Regions from separate parts of the Homo sapiens genome. Here all the other regions are linked to region 1. Evidence: fine-mapped QTL for protein levels in blood plasma. A gene starts in region 1. Each other region holds a variant in brackets. All regions are shown on one strand. Distances are between the middles of the regions. Region 1 holds the start of NECTIN2 (nectin cell adhesion molecule 2). Region 2 has its middle 18 kb from the start of NECTIN2. Region 3 overlaps NECTIN2 (nectin cell adhesion molecule 2). Region 4 overlaps CEACAM16 (CEA cell adhesion molecule 16, tectorial membrane component). Region 5 has its middle 8.1 kb from the start of MIR8085.

The links. PIP is the chance, under the fine-mapping model, that this variant and not a neighbour inherited with it causes the effect. Protein levels are from antibody-based Olink assays in UK Biobank. Linkage for the fine-mapping came from a reference panel and not from the study's own genotypes, which makes the PIPs less certain.
Region 2: its variant is fine-mapped to the plasma level of the NECTIN2 protein (UK Biobank, PIP above 0.99).
Region 3: its variant is fine-mapped to the plasma level of the NECTIN2 protein (UK Biobank, PIP above 0.99).
Region 4: its variant is fine-mapped to the plasma level of the NECTIN2 protein (UK Biobank, PIP above 0.99).
Region 5: its variant is fine-mapped to the plasma level of the NECTIN2 protein (UK Biobank, PIP above 0.99).

What each region holds. Positions count from the first base shown.
Region 1 is chr19:44,844,185-44,849,311 of GRCh38, forward strand. It overlaps NECTIN2 (nectin cell adhesion molecule 2), which reads left to right and starts at 2,113. Exons shown (of 9, transcript NM_001042724.2): 1 at 2,113-2,429. The coding sequence starts at 2,342. RefSeq lists silencers at 477-876, 1,744-1,793, 1,874-1,953, 2,084-2,183 and an enhancer at 3,823-4,805.
Region 2 is chr19:44,825,919-44,831,045 of GRCh38, forward strand. No RefSeq gene overlaps it. Among named protein-coding and RNA genes, the nearest start is that of NECTIN2, 18 kb to the right of the region's middle. The variant A/G (reference allele first, on the strand shown) is at 1,928.
Region 3 is chr19:44,856,070-44,861,069 of GRCh38, forward strand. All of the region lies in intron 1 of NECTIN2 (nectin cell adhesion molecule 2), which reads left to right. Among named protein-coding and RNA genes, the nearest start is that of NECTIN2, 12 kb to the left of the region's middle. The variant G/A (reference allele first, on the strand shown) is at 1,898.
Region 4 is chr19:44,699,492-44,704,618 of GRCh38, forward strand. It overlaps CEACAM16 (CEA cell adhesion molecule 16, tectorial membrane component), which reads left to right. Exons shown (of 7, transcript NM_001039213.4): 2 at 1,870-2,002; 3 at 3,858-4,202; 4 at 4,527-4,805. The coding sequence starts at 1,966. All of the region lies in intron 1 of CEACAM16-AS1 (CEACAM16, CEACAM19 and PVR antisense RNA 1), which reads right to left. Among named protein-coding and RNA genes, the nearest start is that of CEACAM16, 2.9 kb to the left of the region's middle. The variant T/C (reference allele first, on the strand shown) is at 3,116.
Region 5 is chr19:44,764,188-44,769,314 of GRCh38, forward strand. It overlaps the pseudogene LOC124900431. Among named protein-coding and RNA genes, the nearest start is that of MIR8085, 8.1 kb to the left of the region's middle. The variant T/C (reference allele first, on the strand shown) is at 2,793.

The sequences.
Region 1 (5,127 bases):
AGGTCAGGAGTTTGAGACCAGCCTGACCAACATGGTGAAACCCCGTCTCTACTAAAAATACAAAAATTAGCCGGGCGTGGTGGCGCGCGCCTGTAATCCCAGCTACTCAGGAGGCTGACTCAGGAGAATCGCTTGAACCCAGGAGGCAGAGGTTGCAGTGAGCCGAGATCGCGCCACTGCCCTCCAGCCTGGGCGACAGAGCGAGACTCCGTCTCAAAGAAAAAAAAAAAAAAAGGATCATAACTAAGACTCGAATGCGGAGGGATAACAGCCTCTGCTACTTGAAACCTAGTCCTTCTGGGGAGGAAAGCCCAGGTGTGTGGCAGGTGGAAGGGAGGGCGAGCCTAGGTGGTCCTCTTGCTAGGGCAAGAAGCCCCCAAGCACCTGCCCCCAGCTGAGCAGCTCCGCGCCTCCTGGCCCTGGACGAACTTGGGCCCAGACTGGCGCTCCGTGGCACCCCCTCCCCCGGCCTCCCGCTTCGCGCCCTCATCCCGCCCCCCGGCGCGGCCTCACCAGCTCCCCCTGGGCAGCCCAAAGAATGCGAAGAGGTAGGTGGGGGTAGGGAGGAGGGCGAGCCGCTGGGAGAGACAAAGGGCCCGAGTCTGAGCGAGAGACACAAAGACGCGAGGAGGCTGGGGAGATAGGGGAAGTGGGACAAGGACGCGGGGAGTGACCAGGTCCGGAGGCCGGACTGGAGCCCAGCCCCACCCAGCCCGGCCGGGCCAGCGCAGCGCGGGGGCCGGTCTCTGCTGCCCCCTGGCGGGTGGCTGCGGTGAGAAGGCGGCGCGGAGCAGGTGTTGGGAGGGGAGGACCAGGGCGCGCAGGGAGGTAGGGAGGGAAGGAAGCAGAGAACAGAGCAGGGACAGAGAGACAGCGAGAGAGACTCGCACGCAGAGACAAGAGACGCCGAGAGGGAGACACAGAGAAAGAGACAGGGACAGAGAGACACAGATAGAGACAGAGAGAGACACACGGAGAGACAGAGACAGAGAAGCACAGAGATAGAGAGGCACAGAGATAGAGACAGAGAAACACAGAGACAGAGAGGCACACAGAGACAGAGAGGCACAGAGACAGGCCGATAGAGACAGAGATACACAGAAATAGAGACAGAGACAGAGAGGCACACAGATAGAGACAGAGAGACACAGAGACAGAGTCAAAGGATGGAAAGAGACATGGGGACCAAGTGACCCAGAAACAGTGACAGACAGGCCGGGCTTGGTGGCTCACGCCTGTAATCCCAGCATCTTGGGAGGCCGAGCCGGGAGGATCGCTTGAGGCCAGCCTCAGCAACATAGTGAGACCCCGCCGCCCCCCCGCCCCGTCTCTTTTATTGAAATAAAGAAACAGTGACTGACAAAGGAAGACCAGAAACAGAGCGACACCGAAGCATGAGGACGGAAAGACCCAGAGAGGCAGAAATACAGGGACAGAGAGGAAGACCCAAAGAGAGTGAGAGAGACACAAAGACACGTAAGAGAGACAGAGAAATCCAGAAAGAAACGAGTGCAGCGACACCTAGAGTTCGGGGCAGAGATTAGAAACGCACGAGGGTACGAGAAACAGGCTCAGGGCGATGGGCTCGACCTGCGGGGAGGTCGCACAACCGGGACGTGCTGGGGGCAGAACCGTAAAGCCCCACGTGCCTCAGGCAACTGTGATGAGAGGACCCGGGCAGGCAGGAAAGGGCAGGATTCGAACTGTGGGTGGGACAGAGGCCAGGACGGACTGAGCTAAGAGACCGAGAGAACTCCGGCTAGGGCGAGGGGCGGGGCTGGTGGAGGCGGGGCTGGTGGGGGCGGAGTCGGCCGGAAGGGCCGAAAGGGGCGTGGCAAGACCTTGGCGAGGCGGCCGGTAGGCAGGGGGCGGGGCGTGGGAACTACTCGGGAGCAGAGGGGGCGTGGCTAGACCTTAGGGGGCGTGGTTTAACGCCGGGAGCGAAGGAGACAGAATTCTTTGGCAGGGGCGACCTTAGAATCCTGGGGAGGAGCGAGAATGGAATCCCGGGGAGGAACAGGGGTGGAATCCGGGGGGCGGGGTCAGAACGCCAGGAGGGGGCGGGGCCGGAGCCAGGGTCGGCTTGACTCGGGGGAGCAGCGGGTGGATCCTGTGACGTCAGCGGGTTCGAACCGCCGGAGCTGAGCGAGAGGCCGGGGGTGCCGAGCCGGGCGGGGAGAGCTGGGCCGGGAGAGCAGAACAGGGAGGCTAGAGCGCAGCGGGAACCGGCCCGGAGCCGGAGCCGGAGCCCCACAGGCACCTACTAAACCGCCCAGCCGATCGGCCCCCACAGAGTGGCCCGCGGGCCTCCGGCCGGGCCCAGTCCCCTCCCGGGCCCTCCATGGCCCGGGCCGCTGCCCTCCTGCCGTCGAGATCGCCGCCGACGCCGCTGCTGTGGCCGCTGCTGCTGCTGCTGCTCCTGGAAACCGGTGAGACGAGCGGACGGCCCCCTGCCCTCGCGCGGACCCCCTCCAACCTTACCTTCCGAGCTGGGGAAGCCGAGCACCTTCCCCGCCCACCCCCGGCTCCCCGAGCCCCCTCTCGCGTGCCCCCTTCCTGGCTGGCCCCACAGACTCCGACCCCCTACACGTCCGATTCTCTCGAGGAGACTCTGACCCCTCCTTTCTGCATCTCTCTCACCACCACCCCCATCCTTCTTAATCCAATTGCCCATCCTACGCCTGCTTGTCTGTCCCCCTCCCCATTTCTCGGATTCCCGCGCCGAAAGGGTTAAATCCCAGGAAGGCCTGGTGCCCCCTCCCCACCCCGCGCCGAGTAGTTCACCCGGATCTGGGTCTCTGTCTCCTCTACCCCTCTCAGGAATGTGGGGAATGTTCCCCCCACCTACCGCAGTAAGGTCTCGAGGAAGAGGCGAGACCACCTCCCTCCCCTATTTTTCCTTCTTCCCGGCTTGGGCGTCTGAGGCCCGGAGAGAACTGAGGACAAGCGGACCTGATTCGGGTCCCTTGGAGGGCTAAGGATAAGAGTTCTGGCGACTTAGGGGGAAGGGCCTGAGCTCGGAGCTCCAACCCCGAACCTCAGGGAGTTGGGGGTTCTGACTCCGTGGACTCCAGAAAAATTAGGGGCCGGGGGCTCCGTCTTCAGGGTCCCTGGTAGAATGGAGGCTAGGCGCTAAGTCTAACTGGGATCTAGGTAAAACTGGGGGCGAGAGAGGATCAAACTTGTAGCTTCTGGATTTAATTGTGGGCAGGGGGCTTCGTTTTCAGGGTTCCCGGCAGAACCGGGGGACAGGAGACTCGATCTCGTGGGCTTCAGACTTAATTGTAGGCAGAGGAACGTCTTCTGAGATCCAAACAGAAGTGCGAGCAGCGGGCCCCGTCTCTTGGGCTCCAGATATGATCAAGGGTCGAAGGCTCTGTCTTGAGGCTGGAGTCTCAGTCGCCTGAGTCCCAGATAGAACGGGAGGCCCCGAGTCCCAGAGGCTGGGAGACTCCTCCCTTTCCCTATGAATGGTCGGGGGCGACGGAGACGTCGCCGGGGAAGTTTTCCTGGTTTCACTCTCGCCGAGCCAGGGAGGGGCGGGGCGGGCGCTCCTGGCTCCGGGTTCCGGACTCCCCGGTTTCGGGACCTTATCTATCCTCTGGTAGCGCCTTTGTCCTCAGAGCCATAGCAGGAGGTGGACGAGTGGAGCCGCCGCCCTTATCCCCCGTCCCTCCCATTGCTATGCCTTGGACCCCCTGGCGTCCTTCCATCCACCCCACTAGGGGAGGAGAGCGGCCCCCCTGGGGAGGGAGGGGCTGGGAGGGAACCCTTGAAAGAGGCGCTGGCCCCGCCCCTTGCAGGTGACCCGGTTGTGTATTCCCAGCGACAAACTCTGGGATGCTAGAGTTTCCCGAGGGTTTGCGCAGAAGAGAGCTCAGGGGGATCTTGGGGGAACCCCGGCCACCTCTCTGGCCTCATTTCCCCCAGGATGGCTCTCACTGGCCTCCCAGCTTTGACCCAGAGCTGGGAACTCCGCTTCCATCCCCTGCCTCTCCCTTCAGGCAGAAATAGGCAGATGAGATCAGAACTGGCACCTCTGGGTGAATTCTCCGAACCCACCAGACCCTGAGCCTACTGTTAGCTTGGTGCATGATCTCACCGAAGGCTCCAGCTTGCCCTGGGAAACAGGTCCTGTTTCTGTTTCCATCTTAGAGATGAGGAAACAGGCTCAGCAAAGGCAAGCAGCCTTCTCAAGGTCTCACAGCAGGTCCCGGGGAAGCCGGGCTCCGGTTCTTCAGAGCCCCGCACCGGGTGGGCTCCAGGAAGTGCCTCTGAGTTTCCATTTCCTCCCTCGTAAAAAAACTGAGATAACAATCCTTTCCCTGCGGACCATCCGGAAGGCTCCCAGGCCCCACTGATTCCCTGTGAAACCTCTTAGCCCCTGGAGAAGGAGCTGTCGGCCCCTTTCTTGACCACCCCCACCCCAATCCTTCGCCTCTGCTGTCCACTGGCTGGCCGGCTGGCATGTGCTCGCTCTCCCTCTCTCTCTCTCTCCCCTCCCCCTCCCTGTTTTCCTCCTTCCCTCACTTTCTTTCCCCCTCTTCATCTCTCTTCGTTTCTCACCCTTTCTCTCTCCATCCCTCTCCAAGCTCTTTCTCTCTTCTCCTCTCCCCATCTCTCTCTCTCCTCTCCGTCTTTCTCTGTATACCTGTCTAGCTCCACTGCCTCCCCCGCTTGGCCTCCTCGGGGAATGCGGGTGCACCACCTGGGCCCCCAGCTGGGCCGGCTCCCCTCCCCCAGCTTTCTTCCCTGCCCATCCGTGTGTCCATGTCCGCCAGGCAGCCCCACGTAGTGGAGGGGGAGGGGAGCAGAGGGACGGCAGCCTGGCTGTCTCCTCTCATTAGGGAAGGGGGACTGGGCAGAGGAGAAGTTGGGGGGTGGGTATATAGAGAGGCTGGAGCTACAAGGATGGGTACAGAGGCCAATAGAGGGAAGCGGTCAGACACAGATTTAGGAATGGGGTCAGAGACACGTGTAGGAATGGAATCAGAGGATAGAAGGGGAGTGAAATGCCGGCACAGGGTCGGGGGAGTGAAATACCGACACAGGGATGAGGCTGAAAGACACTGGAATGGGACGGAGGAGGGTGGGGGAAGGGAGCTAGACATAGATACCAGATGAAGG
Region 2 (5,127 bases), 18 kb before region 1:
TGCACAGTCCATTCATTGGAGGTGTGGGGATCAGTAGCTTGGGTCAAGTAGTTTGTATCTATCTAGCTGTCCCATACAGAGATGGTCCCATACAGGAGGAGGTGAGATAAAGCTGATACCTTGATCAACTCCAGTAAGAAACTGGAAGGAGAGCCGGGCATGATGGCTTACACCTGTAAACCCAGTGCTTTGAGAGGCTAAGGCAGGAGGATTGCTTGAGGCCAGGATTTTGAGACCAGCCTGGACAACATAATGAGACCCTGTCTCTAAAAAAGAAATAGAGAGAAGGAAGAGAGGCAGGGAGGGAGGGAGGAAGGACTGGGAGGAAGTATAGAGCTGGAAACTGTGTCAAGGATAACTAAGTCCAGATTTTGGCATGAGAAAGTTAAACATATTCAGAATGGATGCTAAGACAATATAGAATTATACAAATTCACCACAATGGCATATTAATTTGTTTTCATTTGAATTTCCGTGACCTCTAGTGTGAAAATGGTGTTTCTCTGTATGTTCATTGGCCATTTGCTTTTCTTGTTTATGAACTGTGGTATACTCTTGCCTACTTTTCTCTTTTTTTTTTTACCTTTTCTTATTAATTTGCAGGATCTCTCTACACACCAGGAATATTAACCTCTAATCTTATAAAGCTTTTATCTCAGGCTGGGTGCCGTGACTCACGCCTGTAATCCTACCACTTTGGGAGGACGAGGTGGGTGAATCACTTGAGTCCAGGAGTTCAAGACCAGCCTGGCCAACATAGCGAAACCCTGTCTCTACTAAAAATACAAAAAAATAGCCAGGCAGGGGGTAGCCAGGCATGCCTGTAATCCCAGCACTTTGAGAGACCAAAGCAGACGGATCGCTTGAGCCCAGGAGTTCAAGACCAGCCTGACCAACATAGTGAAACCCTGTCTCTACTAAAAATACAAAAAATTAGCCGGGCATGGTGGCGCATGCCTGTGATCCCAGCTACTCAGGAGGCTGAGGCAGCAGGGTTGATTGAGCCTGGGAGTTCGAGGCTGCAGTGAGTCTTGATTGCACCACTGCACTCCAGTCTGTGTGACAGAGTGAGACCCTGTCTTTACATAGATATAGACAGATGATGATAGATAGATGATAGATAGATAGATAGATAGATAGATAGATAGATAGATAGATGATAGATAGATAGATAGACAGATAGATGATAGATAGACAGACAGATATCCACATAGATACCTCAAACCTATTATGTCCCAAATCGACCTCCAGTCTTTCCTCTCGCATAAATGGTATCCCTGCCCTCCAGCTGGGTGAGCCCAAAACTTAGAATTTATCCTGGATTCCTCCATTTCCTTTACCTCCCACTCACATAACCCAAAGGCACATCCCATGGGTCCCCTCCCATACAGCTCTCTTTCCTGACCACTTATCCCCCGGCTTCCCATATTCAATAAACCTTTTAACTCTATACCCTGCCACAGGGCATAGAGCTGCAGCTAGCTCTTTCTACAAATGGTTTCACGGCCATCAGTCCAAACATACATCTTCTTTCACCTGGATCAATGCACTTATAAAAGCAAATGCTCAACAGCAATCTTTGATGGCTCTAATACTCACATCAATTAAAAATTTAAACGTTACCTTTCAGTCACCCTTCCCATCCTTTTAAAGTGGAATTCCTAAATCTAAAATGGTAAAAGTTAAAAAAAAAATAAAACACCAAGCTCATATGGCTCTATAAAATACAGAATAACTTTAAAATGTATCTTATAGGCGGGGCTGGGCATGGTAGCTCACGCCTGTAATCCCAGCACTTTGGGAGGCTGAGGCGGGCGGATCACAAGATCAGGAGATTGAGACCATCCTGGCTAACACGGTGAAACTCCGTCTCTACTAAAAATACAAAAAATTAGCCGGGCGTGGTGGCGGGCGCCTGTAGTCCCAG[A/G]TACTCGGGAGGCTGAGGCAGGAGAATGGCGTGAACCCAGGAGGCGGAGCTTGCAGTGAGCTGAGATCATGCCACTGCACTCCAGCCTGGGCGACAGAGCGAGACTCCATCTCACAAAAAAAAAAAGAAATTATCTTATAGGCAATACTTTCACTTGTCAATTCTCTTTATTTATTTATTTATTTTTTGAGACGGAGTCTCGCTCTGTCGCCAGGCTGGAGTGCAGTGGCGAGATCTCGGCTCACTGCAACCTCCACCTCCCGGGTTCAAGCGATTCTCCTGCCTCAGCCTCCTGAGTTACTGGGACTACAGGCACATGCCATCACGCCCAGCTAATTTTTTTATTTTTAGTAGAGACGGGGTTCCACCATGTTGGCCGGAATTGTCTCAAACTCCCGAGCTCAGGTGATTGGCCCACCTCGGCCACCCAAAGTGCCGGGATTACAGGTGTGAGCCACTGCGCCCGGCCAATTTTTTTTTTTTTTTTTTTTTTTTTTTTTTTTTTTTTTGAGATGGAGTCTTGCTCTGTCGCCCAGGCCGGAGTGCAGTGGCGCAATCTTGGCTCACTGCAACCTCCACCTCCCGGGTTCAAGCGATTCTCCTGCCTCAGCCTCCAGAGTAGCTAGATTACTGGCGCATGCCACCATGCCCAGTTAATTTTAGTAGAGACAGAGTTTCACCGTGTTAGCCAGGATGATCTTGATGTCCTGACCTCATGATCTGCCCACCTCAGCCTCCCAAAGTGCTGGGATTACAGGCGTGAGCCACCATGCCGGGCCAATTTTTTTTTTTAAGATGTAGTCTTGTTCTGTTGCCCAGGCTGACCCATTGCTCTCATGTATGTTTGTTTGTTTGTTTGTTTTTGAGACAGGACCTGGCTCTGTCGCCGAGGCTAGAGTACAATGGTGCAATCATGACTTACTGCAGCCTCGACCTTGGGCTCAAGTGATCCTCCCACCTCAGATTCCCCAGTAGCTGGGACTACAGGTGCATTGCCCTCAGGCCCAGCTAATTTTTGTATTTTTTGTAGAGATGGGATTTCACTAAGTTGGCAAGGCTGGTCTCAAACTCCTGACCTCAGGTGATCTGCCCGCCTCAGCCTCCCAAAGTGCTGGGATTATGGACATGAGCCACCATGCCCTGCCTATAACTGCTTTTAAACATAATTTTATACTTTTCCAGGAGCGTCCTAATGCATACGTGTACTGCGTATTCTCGAAATTTATGCTTTTTTAAAACATAAACCAGGCCTGGCACGGTGGCTCATGCCTGTAATCCCAGCACTTTGGGAGGCCGAGGCAGGTGGATGATCTGAGGTCAGGAGTTTGAGACCAGCCTGGCTAACATGGTGAAACCCCGTTTCTACTAAAAATACAAAAAATTACCCAGGTGTGGTGGTGCGCACCTATAATCCCAGCTACTTGGGAGGCTGAGGCAGGAGAATCGCTTGAACCCAGGGGGCAGAAGTTGCGGTGAGCAGAGATCGCACCATTGTACTCTGGCTTGGGCAACAAGAGTGAAACTCCGTCTCAAAAATAAATAAATAAATAAATAAATAAATAAATAGCAGATTAGAAACCCGTCTGTGACTCAGGTTTTCTCATTTCTCTTAGAATAAAATTCAAACTCCTACAAAAGGCTGCGTGCATAGTGCCTCTCTCTCTGCCATCCCTAGCTTCACTTTCCTTGCCTGCATCCTATCAGACAGTCTGTCTCTCCAGCCCTTGAATATTTTGTTTCTTTCCTACCTCTTTTTTTCTTTTTTTGAGACAGGGTCTCGCTCTGTCACCCAGGCTGGAGTGCAGTGGTGTGATCATAGCTCACTGCAGCCTCAAACCCTGGGGCTCAAGCAGGTCCTCCCACCTCGGCCTCCTCAGTAGCTGCAACTACAGGCATGCACCACCACAGCTGGCTAATTAAAAAAAAAAAAAAAAACTTTTACAGATGGGGTTTCTCTGTGTTGACTAGTCTGGTCTTGAACTCCTGGCTTCAAGAGATCCTCCTGCCTCAGCCTCCCAAAGCTCTGGGATTACAGGCATGACCCATCACACCTGACCAGGACTCTCAAACTTACCCTTCATTTGTCCTGAAATCTTTCACTACAGATCCTCACGTAATTCATTCATTCTCATACTGCAGATTTTGGCTCAAAATAGCACCTAGCCAGAAATGTCTTTCAGACTCTCTTATTTTAAGGAGCTCTTGCCCCAAACCCACCCAAGTTACTTCCATCATCCTAAGTATTAATACTTTTGCTTGATTTTGTTCTTTTCTAGTTTCTGGGTTCTATGCATAGACCATTTTTACTAATATTCATATTTTCTTTTAAATACCTTAGAAAGATATTTTAGATTTCTTCATTTGAGCCATGCACATTCTTTGAAAATTTATCCTAAAATAGCTGGGCACCCAGCCCATCCCTTGAACCCAGGAGGTGGAAGTGGTAGTGAGCTGCGATTGTGTCGCTGAACTCCAGCCTGGGACACCGAGTGAGACTCCATCTCAAAAACAAACAAACAAACAAAAAAATGTTGGGCACAGTAGTTCATGCCTAGTCCCAGCTACTCAGGAGGCTGAGGCACGAGGATCACTTGAGGCCAGGAGTTTGAGATCAGCCTGGGCAACACAGCAAGACCTCACTCTAAAAAAAAATGTTAATGCTAACATATAACTTTGGTTCTGTTTGTGATTGGCATATGGTTTATATTATACTTTTTTTTTTTATTTGAGATGGAGTCTCACCCTGTCGCCCAGGCTGGAGTGCAGTGGTGTGATCTTGGCTCACTGCAACCTCCATCTACCATGTTCAAGCGATTCTCCTGCCTCAGCCTCCAGAGTAGCTGGGATTACAGGCATACACCACCACACCCAGCTAATTTTTGTATTTTTTTTAGTAGAGACAGGGTTTCACCATGTTGATCAGGCTGGTCTCAAACTCCTGACCTCGTGATCCGCCCGCCTTGGCCTCCCAAAGTCCTAGGATTACAGGAGTGAGCCACCGCGCCCAGCAAAAAGTTTTTTAACTAGCTGAGTATAGTGGCACGAGCCTGTAGTGCCAGCTACTCAGGAGGCTGTGGCGGGAAGAGGGAGGCTGCAGTGAGATATGATCGCACCACTGTACTCCAACCTAGGTGACAGCAAGAACTTGTCTCAAAAAAAACAAATAACTTCGGCCGGGCAAGGTGGCTCACACCTGTAAT
Region 3 (5,000 bases), 12 kb after region 1:
GTAGGCAGATCACCTGAGGTCGGGAGTTCGAGGCCAGCCTGGCCAAGATGGTGAAACCCTGTCTCTACTCAAAATACAAAAATTAGCTGAGTGTGGTGACATATGCCTGTAATCCCAGCTACTCGGGAGGTTGAGGCAGAATTGCTTGAACCCAGAGGCAGAGGTTGCAGGGAGCCAAGATGGCGCCACTACACTCTGGCCTGGGTGATACAGCGAGAATGTGTTTCAAAAAAATAAAATCCTAAGACCTATTAGCCTCCTCCCCAACACTCAGTCTCAGTCTTAACCTCTTGTTCTTTTCATTGCCAACTTTTTGTGTCATTTTGCTGTCTGGTCATCTATCTCTGCTCAGCCCACCACCTTCCCCTCAGGCCTCCTTGGATGAAGTTAAGTCATTCTCTATTTGAAGAACCCGCAACGGCTCCCACTTGCCACAAAGAGGAAACTAACTTCCTCGGCCCCAGCCTACTTTGCTGTCTCTGCAGTTCACACAGGCCCAAATGGCTTTCCTTGACCCTCATTGAGTGGCCTTCCCCCCTTGCCTAGCTAGGAAGGGGCCAGAGCGCTTAACCACCCTGATCCCAACCTTAGTGCCTTTGGGGGCCAGGCGGGTGATAAGTCCCAGCACCTGGGGAATCTGGAGGAGCCGGAAGGGAGTGTGCCTTGTGGGAGGGGGGTGATGTCCTTCCTCAGCCCCACCCAGCTGTTGCCCCCAGGAGCCACATATCCGGACTTCTGTCTGGAGCTTTAGACAGCAATCTCCAGGCCTTCTGTGTGGGCTGCTACTTCCCAACTGAAATAACACTCTGTGGGCCAAAGCAAACATGCACCACAGTCAGATCTGGCCTGCAGCAGGCGGCTGACCCCTGCTGCTCTGCTCACCTGGGCCACGCCCCGTGAACATCCCCCATGAGCAAGTCCTTCCCTGGAACTGGCACAAGGGACCCTGGAGGGTGGCTGAAACATCCCCATTTTACAGATGGAGGAAGTTGGGCTTGGAGACAAGGCTGCCAGCTGGAAAGGGTGTCAGCGTTAAATAACAAGATTCAGAAAATAGGATTAAGTATAGAGTTTATTCAAGCCTAAAGCTTGAGGATGGCCACCCCGGAGTGTGGATTCAAGTTGCCCCAAATAAACCCTTTGACTAGCTGTGATTACAAGTGGACTTTTTTTTTTTTTTTTTGAGACAGGGTCTCACCCTGTCACTCAGTCTGGAGTGCAGTGTGTGATCATGGCTCACTGCAGCGTCAGTTTCTCGGGCTCCTGGCCTTGAGTGATTCTCCTGCCACAGCCTCCCTAGTAGCTGGGACTACAGGCCCTAGCCATCTTGCCCAGCTATTTTTTTTTTTTGAGACGGAGTCTTGCTCTATTGCCCAGGCTGGAGTGTAGTGGCACAATCTCTGCTCACTGCAACCTCCACCTCCCGGGTTCAAGCAATCCTCCTGCCTCAGCCCCCCTAGCAGCTAGGATTACAGGCACCTGCCACCATGCCCGGGTAATGTTTATTTTTTTAGTAGAGATGGGATTTCGCCATGCTGGCCAGGCTGGTCTCGAACTCCTGACCTCAGGTGATCCACCTGCTTTGGCCTCCCAAAGTGCTGGGATTACAGGCGTGAGCCATCGTGCCGGGTTTTTGTTTTTGTTTTTTTTTTTTTAAGAGATGAAGTCTCACTATATTGTCCAGGCTGGTCTCAAACTCCTGGCCTCAAGTGATCCTCCACCCACTTCGGCCTCCCATAGTGCTGGGATTACAGGCATGAGCCAACGCACCCAGTCTGCAAGTGGATTTTTAAGGAACAAAGAAGAGAGAGTTCCTAAATTGTTACCAAGAATTTACATTGAAACAGCATAAGGTATCTGCAGGTCTGGCTCAGAAAAAAAGATAACAGAAGGTATT[G/A]ATTGGCTATGCACTGTTTATTGTATCACAAATTCCAGGAACAAGAAGCTAATGGGGAGGGCAGCTGTGCAGGAACCACTGCCTCGGGCATGGGTGGAGGAGGCGTGTGACCGAAGTCCCCTATTCACTGTACAGTCTCCCTGGGCCTGATACATTTCGCATAGCTCAGACTGATCTGAGCTATTTTTCTTTTCTCAAGTTGGGTGGGGGTGGCCCCTCTGGACTGGAAAAGCCTCATTTTTCCCCCAAGTGACACACCTGAGTTTGTTTGACTTGTTTCCCCCAAGTGACACACCTGAGTTTGTGGGACTTGTGTGGAGATGATGTATTTATGTCACACTTCAGTCTTCGCTGATGGCTTTTTTTTTTATATTTATTTACATTTTTTCTTTTAAGGTAGGCAGGGCCTCATTCTATCGCCCATGTTGGAGTGCAGTGGCGAGGTCTCTGGGTTCAAGTGATTCCCCTTCCTCAGCCTCCCAAGTAGCTGGGAATACAGGGGCCCGCCACCACGCCCAGCTAATTTTTGTATTTTTGGTAGAGACGGGGTTTCACCATATTGGCCAGGCTGGTCTCGAACTCCTGACCTCAGGGTGATCCATCCGCCTCGGCCTCCCAAAGTGCTGGGATTACAGGCATGAGCCGCAGCACCCAGCCTTTTTTCTTTCTTTCTTTTCTTTTTGTTTCCCCTCCCGAGACCGAGTCTCTCTCTGTCACCCAGGCTGGAGTGCAGTGGTATGATCTCAGCTTACTGCAACCTCCACCTCCCGGGTTCAAGCAATTCTCCCACCTTAGCCTCCTGAGTAGCTGGGATTACAGGTGCCTGCCACCACACCCAGATAATTTTTCTATTTTTAGTAGAGATGGGGTTTTGCCATGTTGGCCAGTCTGGTCTCAAACTCCTGGCCCCAAGTGAGCCTCCTGCCTCGGCCTCCCAAAGTGCTGGGATTACAGGTGTGAGCCACCACACCTGGCCTTATTTTATTTTTAATTTCTGTTCTTGTATTGCTATAATTTACTGATGATTTCTTACCCAAAGATCCTCGGCCTGTCCCCACCCAAGGGGACTGCCTTCCACCGGGGACCCCTCATAAGAGTTACTCATTAGGATGGTGTTCCCTGGGGTTCCTGTGTGTATGACGCCAGGGCCTGTGCACCGCCTCCATGGCCCATCTCCATCAGACAGAGCTGGGCAGTGGTGTTGGCCCTCGAAATGAGGCTTGTGCCCTGGCCTTTCCTGGCCTGGGGGCTGAGTGCCAAGGCCACCTGTAATTAAACTGAGCTTCCTATGTTTACTTAGCAAGCACTGACCTCTCATTTCCTGGGGCCCTATGCTGAGTGTTCCACAGCTATTCTTTAATCTTTAAACAGCCCTTGGGACGCAGGCACTATTATTAACCTCACATCACAGCTGGGGAAACTGAGGCACAGAGAGGTTAAGTGGCCTGCACAAGGTCGCAGAGCCAGGATTCAAACCCATGAACTATGGGCCACTCAGTCGCCATGCTGTACTGCCGTGCACAGCAGAGGAAGATTTGTTCTTGTTCTTGTTTATATTAAAAGTGAGAAAACATGGGCCACACGCCGTGGCTCACGCCTGTAATCCCAGCACTTTGGGAGGCCAAGGCGGGTGGATCACCTGAGGTCAGGAGTTTGAAACCAGCCTGACCAACATGGTGAACTCTGGTCTCTACTAAAAATTCAAAAATCAGCCGGACCGTAGTGGCTCGCACCTGTAATCCCAGCTACTCAGGAGGCTGAGGCAGGAGAATCGCTTGAACCCAGGAGGCAGAGGTTGCAGTGAGTTGAGACCGTGCCACTGCACTCCAACCTGGGTGACAGAGCAAGACTCCGTCTCCAAAAAAAAAAAAAAAAGGTGAGAAACCACTTAGGCTGGCTGAGAACTGCAAACATGCGTCCACATAAAAACTTGAACTTGCATGATCCCAGCAGCTTTATTTATCAGAGCCAAAAAGTTGAAACAACCTCAATGCCTATCAGCGGCTGAATGGATAAACAAAATGTGGTCCGTCCATGTAGTGGAATATTATTGAGCCTTAAAGAAGAGTGAAGCGCCGACACGTGTTACAGATGGATGAACCTGGAAAACAAGATGCCAAGTGAAAGAAGCCAGACACAAAGGCTACATAGTCTATTACATGAAATGTCCAGAACAGGCACATCAACAGAGACAGAAAGTTGCATCGTGGCTGGGGGAATGGGAAGTGACTGCTTAATGGATAAGGGGGTTACTTAGGGAATTATAAAAATGCCCAGGCTGGGCGCAGTGGCTCATGCCCGTAATCCGAACACTTTGGGAGGCCGAGGCAGGTGGATCGCTTGAGCTCAGGAGCCTAAGCAACATGATGAATCCCCATCTCTACAAAAAATACAAAATTAGCTGGGTTTGGTGGCTCGCACCTGTAGTCTCAGCTACTTGGGGGGCTGAGGTGGGAGGATCACTTCGGCCCCAGAGACGGTTTGCAGTGAGCAGAAATCGCGCCATTGCACGCCAGCATGGACAGAGTGAGATCCTGTCTCAAAAAATAATACCTTAAAACTGATTATAGTAACAGATGTAAAACTCCAAATATACTTAAAGCCACTGAATTGTACTGTATTTTTTATTTTACTTTTTTATAAAAAAATTATATATATATATTGTTTTTTCTTTTCTTTTCTTTTTTCAAGACAGAGTCTCACTTTATCACCCAAGCTGGAGTGCAGAGGCGCGATCTCGGCTCACTGCAACCTCCGCCTCCTGGGTTCAAGTGAACACGTCCGGCTAATTTTTATATTTTTAGTAGAGACAGGGTATTTCACCGTGTTGGCCAGGCTGGTCTCAAACTCCTGACCTCAAGTGGCCCACCCACCTCGGTCTCCCAAAGTGCTGGAATTACAGGTGTGAGCCACTGCACCCAGCCTTAATTGTATACTTTAAATGGGTGAATTGTGTAGCGTAAGAATTTATATCTCGATAAAGCTGTTTAAAAAAAAAAAAAACTACGTAAAAAATGAGCAAAGGACCCGAAGAGACATTTTTCTAAAGAAGACATACAGGCAGCCAACAAACATGAAAAAATGCTCAACATCATTAATCATC
Region 4 (5,127 bases), 140 kb before region 1:
TCAGCCTCCCAAGTAGCTGGGATTACAGGTGCCCGCGACCACACCCAGCTAATTTTTGTATTTTTAGTAGAGACAGGGTTTCACCATGCTGGCCAGGCTGGTCTTGAACTCCTGACCTCAGTTGATCCACCCACCTCGGCCTCCCAAAGTGCTAGGACTACAGGCATGAGCCACTGCGTCCGGCCATGAGCCACCACGCCCGGCCAGAGCCTATACTTTTAATAACAGGCATACCAATCAGACCCACGTCCACCAGGCTCTGGCTTAAATCCCTGACTTGTAGCCTCTCACTAACTGCTGTCAACAAACCTGAAGTAGGGTCCATATCATCTCTATTTTTTTGTTTGTTTTTGAAATGGAGTCTTGCTCTGTCACCCAGGCTGGAGTGCAGTGGCAGGATCTCGGCTCACTGCAACCTCTACCTCCTGGATTCAAGCGATTCTCCTACCTCAGCCTCCCTAGTAGCTGGGATTACAGGCATGTGCCACCATGACCGGCTAACTTTTATTTTTTGTTTTTGCTTTTGTTTTTTGAGATAGAGTCTCACTCTGTCACCCAGGCTGGAGTGCAGTGGTGTGATCTCAGCTCGCTGCAACCTCCACCTCCTGGGTTCAAGAGATTCTCCTGCCTCAGCCTCTCGAGTAGCTGGGACTACAGGTGCACACCACCACACCCAGCTAATTTTTTATATTTTTAGTACATACGAGGTTTCACCATATTGGCCAGGCTGGTCTCGAACTCCTGACCTCGTGAGCCACCTGCCTTGGCCTCCCAAAGTGTTGGGATTACAGGCGTTAGCCACCACACCCAGCTAACTTATATTTTTAATAGAGACGGGGTTTCGCCATGTTGGTCAGGCTGGTTGCAAACTCCTCACCTCAGGTGATCTGCCCATCTCAGCCTCCCAAAGTGCTGGGACTACAGGCACCTGCCACCACGCCTGGCTATTTTTATTATTATTATTTTTAGTAGAGATGGGGTTTCGCCATGTTGGCCAGGCTGATCTCGAACTCCTGACCTCAAATGATCCGCCTGCCTTGGCCTCCCGAAGTGCTGGGATGACAGGCATGAGCCAGTGCACCCGGCCATCATCTCTATTTATCAGAATAATAAATGGAGACTCAACAAGGGACTGTCCCCAGCCCCACTTTGGGTAAGTGCAGAGCTGGTGTCAAAACTCAGCTCTCCTTGGCCCCAAAGCCTCCGAATACGCCCATTTGACAGAGAGGGGAAAACAAGGCCTCCGAAGTGGGAGAAAGAGAATGTGAACTTCTGAGCACTTTGCAGGAAGCCAACAAGAAGGAGAGCCCCAAAGAAAGCATGTGGCCATACAGTTTCCTGCCCTTCTGTCTGGGTTTGCACACAGAGCAGGGCTCAAATCCCCTCTCCCTGCAGGAACCCGGACAAGTGGGAGTCCCCACCTAGCTCATCTCCATCTGCAAAGGGGGGTCCTAAAGGTGCCCACTTTACAGGGTTGTTTTGCCATCCGCTGAGACAACACCTGTAGGTCCCCTGCACTGGGTGGGGCTGGGAAAGGTGCAGTCACCTTTTACTGATTTTCTTCCTTGGTGACTCCCAGGCTCTCTGAGGAGGCCACGGGCCTGGGTGGTTGGTAAGAACTACCCGAAAACCTTCCCCTACTTTTCCTCTCTTCTCCTCGGTGACCTGGTTCCTCTCCCAGTACCAAATCCAGGCCCTCGGCACAAAGAGGGTTAGGCGGCTGCCCCAGGAGGCCTGCCCAGGTCACGGCCTCTGGCCGGTGCCCGCCACACCCACCCTGGTACCCAAACCGGGCCCCAGATCCTTGGTGACTCGATCCCTCCAAATTCAGGTGATCTCCCCTGGCTCCAAATCACCAAACCCTCCCAGGTCCTGCGGCAGACGGAGCCGAGCCCCAACCAGGAAGGGAGTCCGAGCACTGGGACTTCAACGCCACCATCTCCAAGACTCGGTTTGGGGTGAAAGATGGCGCTGACTGGGTACAGCTGGCTGCTCCTCAGTGGTGAGCGAGAATGGCACCCCCCAGCACCTCAGCCCCCCGAGGACCCCAGGGAGGGGAGGGGACCCCCAGTCTGAGAGAGGGAAGGTGTGAGCAGAAGTCCAGCGTGCTAGGGAGGGAGGGCAGCCCTGCTTCACACCGGCAGTTTACCCCTCCAAGAGGCATCTGCATTGGGCAGGCTGGGGACAGCCACCCAGAGAGGTTTTCAGGGTGGGCTTTGGAGATTTCTAAGCCCAGGGCACAAGCCAGGACAAGGGAGCCGCTGTTGCTCCTTCATTCCTGCAGGTTTCTGTTTTATCAGCTATGGAAGCCTTGATGAGGCTAAACTCTTCCCAGCAGCTGTTTCTCCCGGAAGATGTAGCTTAGGGCAGTTGCCTTTCCCTTCTCAGCCTCTGTGTACCCACCTGTGAATGGGGCCTCACTGACAGGGTCATGTAAAGGTCATTATAAGCAGCACCACATATGCCGTGTGCCCGGAGCTGTTCTGAGAGCTTCTCATGGTTTAAAACCACCTATGAGGGGCCGGGCAAGGTGGCTCACACCACTAATCCCAGCACTTTGGGAGGCCGAGGCGGGCGGATCACCTGAGGTCAGGAGTTCAAGACCAGCCTGGTTAACATAGTAAAACCCCATCTCTACTAAAATACAAAAAATTAGCTAGGTGTGGTGGCACATGCCTGTAGTCCCAGCTGCTCGGGAGGCTGAGGCAGGAGAATCACTTGAATCCAGGAGGTGGAGGTCACAGTGTGCCGAGACTGCACCACTGCACTCCAGCCTGGGCAACAAAGCAAGACTCCATCTCAAAAAAAAAAAACAACCCCAAACCACCTATGAGGGAGGCCCACACATGAACCGCACTTCATAGGGAGAAAACGAGGCTCAGAAAGGTGAAACCATTGGCCGCTGTCACACGGCCAGAGAGTGGCAGGACTGAGGGCTAGACCCAGAGACCCTCACTCCTAGCCACACTCTAACAGCCTGGAAAGTACCAGAAAGCTGGCCAGCCATGTCAGTCCTTTTGACGTGAGCACTGTCACAGCCGCCCGTTCCGGGCATTCAAACCACACGTCATTCAAACCCAAGCAGCCCCGACCAGCTCATCGGGCTTGGGGCTGA[T/C]CTGCTTGGTTGAGAAGGAAAGGGGTGGAGTGTGTTCATCTTACCCCTGCTTTCCGCTGTAGGCGAGCTTGGAGAGGCAGAGGCAGAGCCCCAGACTGGGAGTCAGGACCCAGGGGGCAGGCCCTGACATCCTACGTGGGGCCATACAATTAGCTGGGCTGGATACGCAGCCGGATCTCGCGAGACTTAGTTTGGTGACTGTCACGATGGGAAAACCCTTTGGGTCCGGCTTAAAGCCGCAGGTCCTGTGGGCCGAGCACTTGCTTTGCACTTGCTGTATGCAAGATGTGATGCTAGATCCTTGGCACAGTCCATCAGACCCAATCCTCACAACACACGCCTCCCTCCCTCGGACTGAGTCCCTCCCTGGGACTGAGCTCCTGCATCTGACTAACATGTATTGGGCACTTACTGTATACCAGGCATTGTAAGCATGGTATGTATACAGAATCCTTACAACCTTACCAGGCAGGTAGACCTGTCATCCCCATGTGAGAGTTGGAAGAACAGAAACACAGAGAAAGACAGTGTACTCGAAGCCATGCAGATAAACTCCCAGAAAGATTAGGTGGCTGAGATGTTGAGAGTCAGAGTTGCAGGTTCAAATCCTGGTTTTGCCTGTCCTCATTTACACAGAGGACACTGGGCTGGGGACATGCCCCGAGCCTGAGTCTCTTCTTCTGTCAAATGGGGCGATTGATCAAACCTGCCTCATCCAACCCCTCTGACTCCTCTTCCTCAGCCACATTCCTGAATGTGGGGGCCGAGATCTCTATCACCCTGGAGCCTGCCCAGCCGAGCGAAGGGGACAACGTCACGCTGGTCGTCCATGGGCTTTCGGGGGAACTGCTCGCCTACAGCTGGTATGCGGGGCCCACACTCAGCGTGTCATACCTGGTGGCCAGCTACATCGTGAGCACAGGCGATGAGACTCCTGGCCCGGCCCACACGGGGCGGGAGGCTGTGCGCCCCGATGGCAGCCTGGACATCCAGGGCATCCTGCCCCGGCACTCAGGCACCTACATCCTGCAGACCTTCAACAGGCAGTTGCAGACCGAGGTGGGCTACGGACACGTGCAGGTCCATGGTGAGACACCCCCCAACACCCGCCTCTGCCCCAGCTGGGCCTTCCCATCTCCTTCTCAATCCTTCTTTTTTTTAAAAAAAAAAAAAATCCAACAAATCATCAGGGAAACCATCAGGGAATAAGTTTCTAAAATAACCTCAAAATGCTCACCTCCTTCAAGATGGCCTCCAGGATTAGACCTGCCTCCTAAAACCATTCTTTGTCCCTCCGGCTGAGGGTGTGGGGGCCCAGCCACAATCCGGCCATGCCCCTTGTTGGGGGAAGGGAAGGCCCTCAGAGCAGGTGGTGTCCGGCCCCCTCCCCCTCTGTCTCTTGCCCCCACAGAGATCCTGGCCCAGCCCACAGTCTTGGCCAACAGCACAGCGCTGGTGGAACGTCGAGACACCCTGCGCCTTATGTGCAGCAGCCCCAGCCCCACCGCCGAGGTCCGCTGGTTCTTCAACGGTGGGGCCCTGCCCGTCGCTCTCCGCCTGGGCCTGTCCCCTGACGGCCGGGTGCTGGCCAGGCATGGCATCCGCCGGGAGGAGGCCGGCGCCTATCAGTGTGAGGTGTGGAACCCGGTCAGTGTCAGCCGCAGCGAGCCCATCAACCTGACCGTGTACTGTGAGTCCTCCTGGCCCCACTGGAGATACCCAGTGTCCAAACCTCATGGATGGGGAAACTGAGGCCAGGAGAGGGGGCCTAAGGGCACACAGCGAGTCAGCAGGCAAGCTGGGATTGGGGACCAGGGACCCCTCTTAAAGTGCACTTGCCCTCGCCAGGTGCAGTGGCTCACGCCTGTAATCCCAGCACTCTGGGGGGCCTAGGCGGGAGGATCACCTGAACCCAGAAGTTTGAGACCAGCCTGGGCAACATGGCAAGACCTCATCTCTACCAAAAAACATAAAAATTAGCCAGGCATGGTGGCACATGCCTGTAGTCCCAG
Region 5 (5,127 bases), 80 kb before region 1:
GAGGGAGAGATTATTTCTATGTTTCCTGGTCAACATAGTGAGACGCTGTCTCTACAGAAGATCAAAAAATGTGTTGGCTGAGCATGAGCCTGGTGGTGTGTGCCTGCAGTCCCAGCTACTTAGGAGGCTGAGGTTCAAGCATCACTTTAGCCCGGGATGTCAAGGCTGCAGTGAACTATGATCACGCCACTGCATTCCAGCCTGGGTGCCAGAGGGAGATCCTGTCTCTTGTTTTGTTTTGTTTTGTTTTGTTTTGTTTTGTTTTGTTGTTACTAAGTCTCACTCTGCTGCACAGGCTGGAGGAGTGCAGTGGTGCAATCTCTGCTCACTGCAATCTCCGTCTCCCAGGTTCAAGCAATTCTCCTGCCTCAGCCTCCCAAGTAGCTGGAATTACAGGCATGCATCATCATGCCCAGCTAATTTTTAATTTTATTTATTTATTTATTTATTTGAGATGAAGTCTCGCTCTGTCGCCCAGGCTGGAGTGCAGCGGCGCAATCTCAGCTCACTACAAGCTCCACCTCCCGGGTTCACGCCATTCTCCTGCCTCAGCCTCCCGAGTAGCTGGGACTACAGGCACCCGCCACCACATCCAGTTAATTTTTTGTATTTTTAGTAGAGACAGGGTTTCACCATGTTGGTCAGGCTGGTCTCAAACTCCCGACCCCAGGAGATCCTCCTGGCTCAGCCTCCCAGAGTGCTGGGATTACAGGCATGAGCCACCGCACCCAGCCAATATTTATGTTTAATCCTTAGAGCAACTTGCAGGTTTGCTCCAAGGTTTAAACATGAACACTAGTCAAGCTAATTGTGCTCCTCTCCTCCTATGCAGTGGCGGCAAACAGCAGTGCCCTCAGTAGTATACGCAGCCTGCTGCGTGTAGCGGTGGCCTTAAGAGACCTTGGAGATAGCCCTTTCCGATGCATGTTCATGTTTCTGATCTTGACCTCACCCCAGTCTAGACTCCAGACAGGTATGCGAGGCGCCTTTGGAAAGCCCCAGGGTGTGGTGGCCAGGGTTCACATTGGCTAAGGCATCACGTCCATCCGCACCAAGCTGCAGAACATGGAACACGTGATTGAGGCCCTACCCAGGGCCAAGTTCAAGCTCCCTGGCCACCAGAAGACCCACATCTCAAGGCGGTGGGACTTTACCAAGTTTAGTGCAGATGAATGTGAAGACACGGTGGCTGAGAAGTAGCTCATCCTGGATGGCTGTGGCATCAGATACATCCCCAATCATAGGCCCCTGGAATAGTGGCGAGCCCTGCTTACTCACACCCACCAATAAATCCTCCTTCCTGTCCAAACCGAAAAAAAAAAAATATGAACGGGACACAGTGGCTCACGCCTGTAATCCTAGCACTTTGGGAGCTGGAGGTGGGCAGATCGATTGAGCCCAGGAGTTCAAGACAAGCCTGGGCAATATGGTGAAACCCTGTCTCTCCAAAAAAAAAACAAAAATTAGCCGGTATGGTGGTGCACGCCTGTAGTCCCACCCACTGGGGAGGCCGAGGTGGCAGGATCACTTGAGCCTAAGAGGTCAAGGCCGCAGTGAATCAAGATTGCGCCACTGCATTCCAGCCTGGGTGACAGAGAGAGACCTTGTCTCAAAAAAGGAAAAAGGTGGGGGGAAGTAAATTTTGTGCAATACTTATTACAGGCCATGGTGCTGAGTAAGAGCTTCATAAATGGGAATTGCTGTTGCCATCATCTAAGAATTTTTGACAGTTTTGAGGTCAGAGGAAACACAGTAGAGACGATGAGACCTATTCTTTGTCCTGGTAGAAAAATGGAACAATGAGGTCATAGCCTAGATGTGTGTTTTAGCTACATTTTTTTTATTCCACGGTTGTAATTAAATTAAATAATATAGCTGGGCATGGTGGCACACACCTGTAGTCATAGCTACTCGGGAGGGAGGCTGAGGCATGAGGATCACTTGAGCCCAGGAGTTTGAGACCAGCCTGGGCAATGTAGTGAGACCCCATCTCTTGAAAGAGTGAAGTGACTCGCATCTGTAATTCCAGCACTTTTGGAGGCCAAGGCAGGAGAATTGCTTGAGCCCAGGAGTTTGAGATCAGCCTGGGCCACATAGCAAGATCCTCTCTCTACAATAAAAAAAAAAAAATTATATTAGGTGCCTGTGGTCCTAGCTATTCAAAGGCTGAGGCAGGGTGCAGTGGCTCACGCCTGTAATCCCAGAAGTTTGGGAGGCCGAGACAGGCGGATCACAAGGTCAGGAGATCCAGATCATCCTGGCTAACATGGTGAAACCCCGTCTCTACTAAAAATACAAAAACAAAATTAGCGAGGCGTGGTGGCAGGCACCTGTAGTCCCAGCTACTCGGGAGGCTGAGGCGGGAGAATGGGGTGAACCTGGGAGGCGGAGCTTGCGGTGAGCTGAGATCGCACCACTGCACTCCAGCCTGGGTGACAGAGGAGACTCCATCTCAAAAAAAAAAAAAAAAAAGGCCGAGAGGAGTTTGAAGCTGCAATGAGCTATGATTGCACCACTGCACTCCAGCCTAGACAACAGAGAGAGACCCTATCTTTAAAAAATATATAAAACAAAGAGCCTGAGTAACATGGCAAAAGCCTGGGTAACATGGCGAAACCCTATCTCTACAAAAAAAAACGCAAAAATTAACCAGGCATGGTAGCGTGCATCTGTAGTCCCAGCTACTCAGGAGGCTGAGGTAGGAGGACCACTTGACACCGAGAGGTCAGGGCTACAGTGACCTATGACTGCACCACTATGCTCCAGCCTGGGTGACAGAGTGAGACCCTGTC[T/C]TTAAAAATATAATAAATAAAAGAAGAAATATAGTAGCTTTTTTTTTTTTGAGACAGAGTCTTGCTCTGTCACCCAGGTTGGAGTGCAGTGGCAAAATCTCAGTTCACTGCAACCTCTGCCTCCCAGGTTCAAGCGATTCTCCTGCCTCAGCCTCCCGAGTAGCTGGGATTACAGGAGCCTGCCACCACGCCCGGCTAATTTTTGTATTTTTAGTAGTGATGGAGTTTCGCCATGTTGGTCAGGCTGGTCTTGAACTCCCGACCTCAGGTGATCACCCACCTTGGCCTCCCAAAGTGCTGGGATTACAGGCATGAGCTACCACGTCCACCCAATAGTAGCTTAAATAAGATGAAAGTCTATTTTTCTCTCATGTAAAGGCCCAGCGAACACCCGCATCTAGAATAGTAGCCAAGGATGTCAGAGATCGAGGCTCCTTCTACCTGGTTGTTCTGCTGCCCTCACCTCACACTTCCATTGTGTGGTCCAAAATGGCTGCTCCAGCTCCCACCATCACATCCACATTCCAACCACTGGGAAGAAGAAACAAAAGTCAATCGCATGCCCCTACCTTTAAAGCTACAACCCAGAAGTCATACACATCATACACATCACATCCTATTTGGCCAGAATTTAGTCACATGACCACACCTATCACAACAGAGGCTGGGAAATGTGGTTTTATCTGGGCAGCATGTACCCAGCCAAAATTCAGGGGTTCTGCTACAAAAGGAAGAGGAGAGAATGGTTATTGAGGGGCCGCACATGTATCTGTCACAACCAGGGCTCTGCCACCAAATGACTAAATGACTCAAGGTGAAGTGACTTCACCACACTGAGCCTCAGTTTCCTCACCTGTAAGAAGGGAATCCCCCCGACCCCTTGGGGTTGATGGGTTGTTGGGCATTTAATGAGAGTGTGAGTGTCAGGCACTTAGCCCAGGACCTGGCCCATCATCAGTCTGGAGTGTGTTGGAAGTCCTCTTGTGCTTGTGGGTCTAGGCTGTGGGTGATGTGGCTTTTCGTGTATGAGAAACCGTCCCGGGGCTTGAGAGCTGAACCCAGCACTGAACTTTATAAGTAACTTCTCTAAAACAAGGGATCTGGCCTCTGTACACATGGAAATCCCCACTCAGCCTCCTAGACCTTGGGACTAGGCACATGTCCTTCCACAGTCTTCCCCCTTCCGCTGGAGAAAGGCAGACTCCAAAGATGGAGGAAGGGTCCTGCTTGGGGTCTCCAGCCTCCCAGCCTTCACAGAATTAAGCACTCATAGCCTGGCCAACATGGTGAAACCCCGTCTGTTCTAAAAATACAAAAATGTGCTGGATATGGTGGCACACATCTGTAGTCCCAGCTACTAGGGAGACTGAAGTGGGAGGATTGCTTGAACCTGGGAGGGGGAGGTTGCAGTGAGCCAAGATCGTGCCACTGCACTCCAGCCTGGGTGACAGAAAAATAATAATAATAATTCAATCACTCACCCCTCAACTTCCAAAGCTCCTCATGGGTGACAGTCCCAGCATTCCGGGGACAGCTCTAACGCCAGAAGTCATACCTTCAATGCATTTCTCGGGGCTCCACTCGCTTGTCCTCACCACATTGAGTAAACCCAGAAAGACAGAGGACATCTCTCCTAGATGCGTGTGTGAAATCTGCCAGATTCTAAATGCCTGGGACATTCCAAAAAGTGACTTTAAGAGCATTGGCCGGGCACAGTGGCTCACACCTGTAATCCCAACCCTTTGGGAGGCTGAGGTGGGAGGACAGACTGAGCCCTGGAGTTCAAGACCATCCTGGGCAACATGGGTAGACCCCGGCTCTAACCCCGAACATGGTGGCACGTGCCTGCAGTCCCAGATACTCAGAAGGCTGAGGTGGGAGGATCGCTTAAGCCCAGGAGGTTGAGGCTGCAGTGAGCTGTGACCATGCCACTGCACTCCAGCCTGAGTGACAGCGAGAGACTTTGCCTCAAACACACACACACAGAGTCAGGGGACGGTGGCTTACACCTGTAATCCCAGCACTTTGGGAGGCCAAGGTGAGTGGATTGGCCAGGAGTTCAAGACCAGCCTGGGCAACATGGCAAAATCCCATCTCTACAAAAATTAGCCAGGTATGGTGGCACCCACCAACTTGAGAGGCTGAGGTAGAAGGATTGCTTGAACCCAGAGGCAGAGGTTGCAGTGAGCTGTGATTCAGCCACTGCACTCCAGCCTGGGCGACAGAGGGAGACTGTCTCAAAAAACAAAAAGAAAAAAAAAGAGTGTGAGAGGTAAACAGAACACATCTTTTCTTTTTTTCATTGTTTGTTTGTTTTTTGAGACGGAGTCTCGCT